2 separate regions of the Homo sapiens genome follow, and region 2 is reported to be linked to region 1. Evidence: microRNA targets listed by miRTarBase, many of them from high-throughput screens and not tested one by one. Region 1 holds a microRNA gene; the other region holds the end of a gene's coding sequence.
The links. The annotated mature microRNA hsa-miR-6759-5p reads UUGUGGGUGGGCAGAAGUCUGU and lies in region 1 at 1,683-1,704, opposite strand. An mRNA with a match to its seed (bases 2 to 7 or 8) in the 3' UTR can be bound and repressed. Matches are read on the target gene's strand: a 7mer-m8 pairs with bases 2 to 8, a 7mer-A1 pairs with bases 2 to 7 and ends in A, and an 8mer does both.

Region 2: the mRNA of REEP4 is a reported target of hsa-miR-6759-5p. Seed matches in the 3' UTR shown: 8mer at 673-680.

The regions. Positions count from the first base shown.
Region 1 is chr12:57,746,974-57,750,369 of GRCh38, forward strand. It overlaps MIR6759 (microRNA 6759), which reads right to left and starts at 1,709; the gene lies at 1,645-1,709. It overlaps TSPAN31 (tetraspanin 31), which reads left to right. Exons shown (of 6, transcript NM_005981.5): 5 at 45-158; 6 at 243-3,246. The coding sequence ends at 317. CDK4 (cyclin dependent kinase 4) reads right to left here. Exons shown (of 8, transcript NM_000075.4): 6 at 2,481-2,531; 7 at 2,209-2,344; 8 at 754-1,644. The coding sequence ends at 1,552.
Region 2 is chr8:22,135,634-22,138,980 of GRCh38, reverse strand. It overlaps REEP4 (receptor accessory protein 4), which reads left to right. Exons shown (of 8, transcript NM_025232.4): 6 at 1-55; 7 at 188-342; 8 at 429-961. The coding sequence ends at 494. Among named protein-coding and RNA genes, the nearest start is that of REEP4, 4.6 kb to the left of the region's middle.

The sequences.
Region 1 (3,396 bases):
AACTTTACATTCACAACTTTGCATTCTTCACGTTTTATCCTCAGATCTGCAAGAGCCAGAGCCCCACATGCCAGATGTGTGGAGAAAAGTTTCTTAAGCATTCAGACGAAGCCCTGAAAATCCTAGGGGGTGTTGGACTCTTCTTTAGCTTTACAGAGGTAACATTCTCCAGTTCCCTCACACACATCCTTTTTGAGACTGAGAATTAATTGATACTTATCTCTCTCCCTTTGTTCCTACAGATCCTTGGTGTTTGGCTAGCAATGAGATTTCGGAATCAGAAGGATCCTAGAGCCAACCCCAGTGCCTTTCTATGAGACTTTGGATCCTTCTGACTTTTCTTCTGCTCTCTCTAAGCTTTCTCTTCCTCCCTTAGGGAATATCTAGGGTCTGTAACCGTTTTGGTTTGAGAAAAAGGAAAGGCCCCTTGTCACATCCTCTAAAATTGATGGAATAGCAAGACTTTATGCCTTGACATATTTTAGTGGGAGCCAGACTATAAGGAATAAAAGGAAAAACTTTCTTCCTCTCTCTCCAAGAGGATATGGGAAGCTTCTGTGAGTGCATAGGATGGGGGCTGGAGTCATTCTTAGCTGTTTCCCTTCCTCTGTCCATATACTGGATCACCTCAACATACCCTGGTGTGGCTCTAAGGGTAAATCAGGGATAGGGCCAAGGAGAAAACAACCAAGAACTCTTTCCTGTAATAAGCAGGATCCAGTTTGAGAAAGTTTAGCGAATATAAAAGTAAAAGCCATTTAAAAATCTATATTCTTTTTTTTTTTTTGACACAGAGTCTTGCTCTGTTGCCCAGGCTGGAGTGCAATGGCATGATCTCGGCTCACCGCAACCTCTGCCTCCCGGGTTCAAGCGATCCTCCTGCCTCAGTCTCCCAAGTAGCTGGGATTACAGGTGTGCACCACCACGCCTGACTAATTTTGTATTTTTAGTAGAGACAGGGTTTCACCATGTTAGTCAGGCTGGTCTCGAACTCCTGACCTCAGGTGATCCACCCGCGTTGGCCTCCCAACGTGCTGGGATTATAGGCGTGAGCCACCACGCCCCGCCTAAAATCCATATTCAAAGAAGCAATTTCAGTTCCTTTCTAAGCTTTGTCAGTCAAGGGGCTCCACTGACTTCCTAGGCCCTGTAATTTAACCAGTCTTTAAGGTTTTGCAGGAAAGTCCCTTCTTCCAAGTGGTTTTTCCAAATCGCACAATGGCAAAGCCAAACAGAGGAAGAAACATTAAAAAAAAAAAAAAGACCATTATTTCTTTGTTTTGTTTTTCCTGTATAAAAAAGGACCCCAAATATAAAGGTAGGGAAAGGGACAAGAGGGAACATACCCCTTAGTGTAGAGAAATGGGAAGGAGAAGGAGAAGCCTCAAAAGGAGAGGTGGGAGGGGAATGTCATTAAGGCAGCAAAGTAATCTCTGTAGAAAGATGGAGGAGGACCCTCCATAGCCTCAGAGATAAAGGCAAAGATTGCCCTCTCAGTGTCCAGAAGGGAAATGGCAGCTTTTCTTCCTTCCATGGCAGCCACTCCATTGCTCACTCCGGATTACCTTCATCCTTATGTAGATAAGAGTGCTGCAGAGCTCGAAAGGCAGAGATTCGCTTGTGTGGGTTAAAAGTCAGCATTTCCTGAGGGGAGAGGCAAAGGTCAGAAAACCATGAAGAAAACAGACTTCTGCCCACCCACAACAATACCTGGGATGAGCTTTCTTCTTTTTTCTTTTTTTTTTTTTTTGAGACGGAGTCTCGCTCTATCACCCAGGCTGGAGTGCAATGGTATGATCTCAGCTCACTGCAACCTCCGCCTCCTGAGTTGAAGTGATTCTCCTATCTCAGCCTCCCAAGTAGCTGAGATTACAGGCGTGTGCCACCACCCCCGGCTTATTTTTGTACTTTTAGTAGAGACGAGGTTTCACCATGTTGGCCAGGCTGGTCTCGAACTCCTGACCTCAGGTGATACGCCCACCTTGGCCTCCCAAAGTGCTGGGATTACAGGCGTGAGCCACCGTGCCCAGCCAGGATGGGTTCTCTTCTATATCCTTCTCTGTGGGTGGCTATTTGCAGCTGTAATAAAAACTACAGCCCATCTACCAACCAAGTTTCATTAACCACAGTGGCCAGGGCCCTGCATACTGCTCTATTTCTTTCCCCAGTCTCTATTTCTTTCCCTGTGCCCACAGCCATCTCCAGTACCAGCAGCAGCTGTGCTCCCGACTCCTCCATCTCAGGTACCACCGACTGCACTGGGCGGGGCCCTCTGGGGGGAAAGGCTCCACGGGGCAGGGATACATCTCGAGGCCAGTCATCCTCTGGAGGCAGCCCAATCAGGCTGTGGGGGACAGGAGAACTCTGGTCAGGAGGGTCCTCCAGTTCCCATCCCCATGGGCAGAGCCAGTTGCCATCCTGGGTTCAGCAGAAAGAGGACTCAGAATAGAAAATCTTTTTCTCCCATGTTGGTCACTTACTCAAAGATTTTGCCCAACTGGTCGGCTTCAGAGTTTCCACAGAAGAGAGGCCTAAGGTGAGAAGGGATATAAGGTAGCAGTCATTTTCAAAGATATCTTAGTTGAATGGTTACTGCTTAGTGGCTCAAAATAGGAAGTATAGGGAATAAAGGCCAACAATTCCAGCACTTTGGGATGCTGAGGTGAGAGGACTGCTTGAGCCCAGGAGTTCTAGATCAGCCTGGGCAAGCAAGACCTTGTCTCTTTTTTTAAAAAAAAAGAAATGCCAGGTGCAGCGGCTCACGCCTGTAATCCTAGCACTTTGGGAGTCTGATGTGGGTGGATCATGAGGTCAAGAGATCGAGACCATCCTGGCCAACATGGTGAAACCCTGTCATTACTAAAAGTACAAAAATTAGCTGAGCATGGTGGCGTGCACCTGTGGTCCCAGCTACTTGGGAGGCTGAGTCAAGAGAATTGCTTGAATCTGGGAGGTGGAGGTTGCAGTGAGCAGAGATCGCACTACTGCACTCCAGCCTGGCGACAGAGCAAGACTCCATCTAAAAAAAAAAAAAGCCAGTCATGGTGGCGTGCACCTGTAGTCTCAGCTACTCAAGAGGCTGAGATGGGAGGATTGCTTTAGCCCAGGAGGTAGAGGCTACAGTGAGCTGTAATTGGGCCACTGCACTCCAGCCTGGGTGACAGAGTGAAACCTTATCTCAATAAATAAATAAATAAATAAATAAATAAATAAATAAATAAATAAAAAATAAAGAGAATAAAGGGATATGAAGTTCCTAATTCCAGAACATTTCAGAGCTTTCTGCTATGGGCAAGTTAGTAGTACGCAAGTAAAAGAATGGGGCCAGATGCAGTAGCTTATGCTACTTTGGGAGGTAGGGGTGGGAGGATTGCTTGAGTGCAAGAGTTCAAGACC
Region 2 (3,347 bases), not on the chromosome of region 1:
TACCATGACCCCCTCTACCTGGAGGACCAGGTGTCCCACCGGAGGCCACCCATTGGTGAGCGGGCAGAGGGGCCCAGAGCCATGCCAGGAGGGATGGCTTCCTTCACTCACACCATGGCTTCCCCCAAGGCTCGAGGAAGGGCTGGCCTGGTCGCAGGCTTTCAGCTTCACCTCCTCCTCCACACAGGGTACCGGGCCGGGGGCCTGCAGGACAGCGACACCGAGGATGAGTGTTGGTCAGATACTGAGGCAGTCCCCCGGGCGCCAGCCCGGCCCCGAGAGAAGCCCCTAATCCGCAGCCAGAGCCTGCGTGTGGTCAAGAGGAAGCCACCGGTGCGGGAGGTCAGTGTGGGAGGACGACAGGAGGGAGGAGGGCTCTGCTGGCTGGTGCTCCCCACACCCTCATGCTGTGCCTCCCCTTTCCCCAGGGCACCTCGCGCTCCCTGAAGGTTCGGACGAGGAAAAAGACTGTGCCCTCAGACGTGGACAGCTAGGGTCTGCTGCATCTGCCCCCTTCTTACCTCGTGCCCTGCAGGGCTCCAGGGCTATTTGGAGGGACCTTGGGCTGCACATCTGGCCTGCCTGCACCAGCTGCCTGGGCCCCACCCTCCTGACTCCTGCTGATGGTTAAGGGCCGGGAGCAGATGCTGCCAAGGCCACATGCAGGGATGCACCCACAATGTACCAAAGCAGGCTGGGCCCAGGGTTCTATTTATTGCCTTGCTCTGCCCTCTCCCTTCCCCGGTTGTGGGACAAGAGCCCTCCCTGAACCCCTGCAACCCTCCCTGAACCCCTGCAAATGAAACCAAACGTCCACCTGGGTGTGTTCATTCCTTCCTGTCCTTCAAAGTACTTGATAGCCTTTCATAAGGCCTGGCACATGTGTCCTGGTTGTGTGTGTGTGTGTTGGTGAGTGAGGTCAGGTTTGCGAGTGTTTTGATAAATAAATACATAAAGGGGCTCTGTTTCTCCTGATTCTTACTCCCGTTGCTCGCCTCACACCCTTGAAATGGGACAGCCCAGTCCTAGCCTAGGTCTAAGGCTGAAGGAGCCCAGTCCTCTGGGGGAGACAGAACCATTGACAGAGAGTTGTGATGCAGCACATGGTTTCACGAAGGAGCTTTTGGGGAGTTTTGAGAGCACTGATGGGAAAGTGGGGACGAGTCCAGAGGACTGGTCAGAACCCGAAACTTCAGTTAGGCCTTGGCAGGAAGGTGCAGCTATAGAGAAACCAGTGGGAGCACAGGCAGGAGGGGCTTGGGGCAGCACGTTAGTCCCATAGGGAGGTCGAAGCTAGGCAGAGGAGACCTGGGGAGGAGTATCTCCTCCAGGAGCCTGGAAGAAGGAGCCCCCTGGGGCAGCTCTGGGGACATTAAGTTCTGTAAACAGTCAGGTACCCGCAGGGGCACCATTGCACCTCTGAGGAGTGGCCACGAGAGGGCAGCAGTGTCTGGGATCTGGGCTGCCCCCGGCTTCCAGGTCAAGGAGGGTGGGGTTGGGAGACTGGCCAGAGCCTCGCCCTGCTGGGCCTGGCGGAACTCAGTGGCCCTCCCTGCTGCTTGTGGTCACTGGTCCTTGGCCTGCCCCATCCAAGGAGTCTCTGCTCTCCTGAGACCAAGGCTGTTTGCCTGGCTGGCTCCACTCCAACTCCTCCGATCCCTGGGGCAACCGGGGTACCCAGCTCTGCCCTCTACTGCCCCGGTGCTGGTCTCACCATGATGCCCGGGGTGCGCCCCTCTGCCACTGCTGCACCTGCTCCTCCTCCCTGCTTTTGATTGATTAAGCAAAGAGGTGGGTGAGAGTGTGGGATGAGAAGAGGGGAAATGGGGTGGTAACCTGGAGTGGCCCCAGAGAGTGTGGATTAACTCTTGGTGTGGGGATTATCCAGGTTTTATTTGGGGGAGGCTCTTAATCTGCTGCGGTGATTTAGCTTCTCACGTATAGGGGCTCACTGGCGTCCAACATGGCCTGCCTTTGCATCGTGGGGTTGTCTTATCGCTTCATTAATTCATTCAAAAATGAATCTTTATTGAGCCTCGAGCAGGTACCAGACATGTTGCCAGACACTGCAGGGATGCAGGCAGTAGTAACGGCTGGCGCCCAGAGTGTGGCTGCCCACGCAGACGCTGCTCTAAGCCCCTGGCATATATTAATTTAATTCTCATAACGATCTTTGGGGGGTGGGTACACACTAGTCTTACAGTCTCCATTTTCCAAACAGGAAAACAGGCACAGAGAGGGCAAGTGATTTGCCCAAGGTCACATAGCTAGTACATAGCAGAAGGGCTTGGAATCAGGCAGTCTGGCTCCAGAGTCTGTGCACTTAATCACTAAGCAGTACCAGAGTGAAGGAGATGATTCCTGCCTGGGAGGCAAGGACATGGAGACTAACATGTATGGAATATTTGTTGTGTGCCTGACCTTGTGCTGGGCATTTTACAGAGATGATTTCCTTGAATCCTCCCAACAAGCCTGTCAAATAGGGACTATATCCATTTTTTAAAACAGGTTCTCACTGAATCACCCATGCTAGAATACAGTGGAATGATCATAGTACACTGCAGCCTCGAACTCCCGGACTTAAGGGATCCTCCCACCTCAGCCTCCTGAGTAGCTTGGACTGCGGGCACTCTCCATCACACCTGGCTAATTACCATATTTTTTTGGTAAAGACGGGGTCTCACTATGTTGCCCAAGCTGTTCTTGAATTCTGGGGCTCAAGTGATCCATCTGCCTTGAACTCTGAAAGTGCTGGGATTACAGGCATGAGCCACTGCACCCACAGGGCTATACCCATTTTACAGATGAAAAACCGAGGCTTGGAGAGCCACAACAACTTGTGTACCATTGTGCTGCTTGTGAGTCGGGGACCCTGACTCCTGATGCACCTCTGCCTGGGAGTTGCGTTGATAGAGGCGGGCTGGCAGGATCCATGTACCCAAACCAAGAGAACAAAACCAGAGGGGCGCCGGGCACAGTGGCTCACCCTTGTAATCCCAGCACTTTGGGAGGCTGAGGCGGATGGATCACCTGAGGTCAGGAGTTCGAGACCAGCTGGCCAACATGGTGAAAACCTGTCTCTACTAAAAAAAACAAAAATTAGCCGGGCATGGTGGCGCGTGCCTGTAATCCAAGCTACTTGGGAGGCTGAGGCACAAGAATCGCTTGAGCCCGGGAGGCAGATGTTGCAGTGAGCCGAGATTGCACCACTGCACTCTAGCCTGGGTGACATAGCAAGACTCCATCTCCAGAAAAAAAAAAAAAATAACAAACCCAGAAGGGCATATGATGAATGGCAAAACAAAACGGAGTAAAAGAAAACAAGAGTTGGGGAGAGGCCTGAAGTC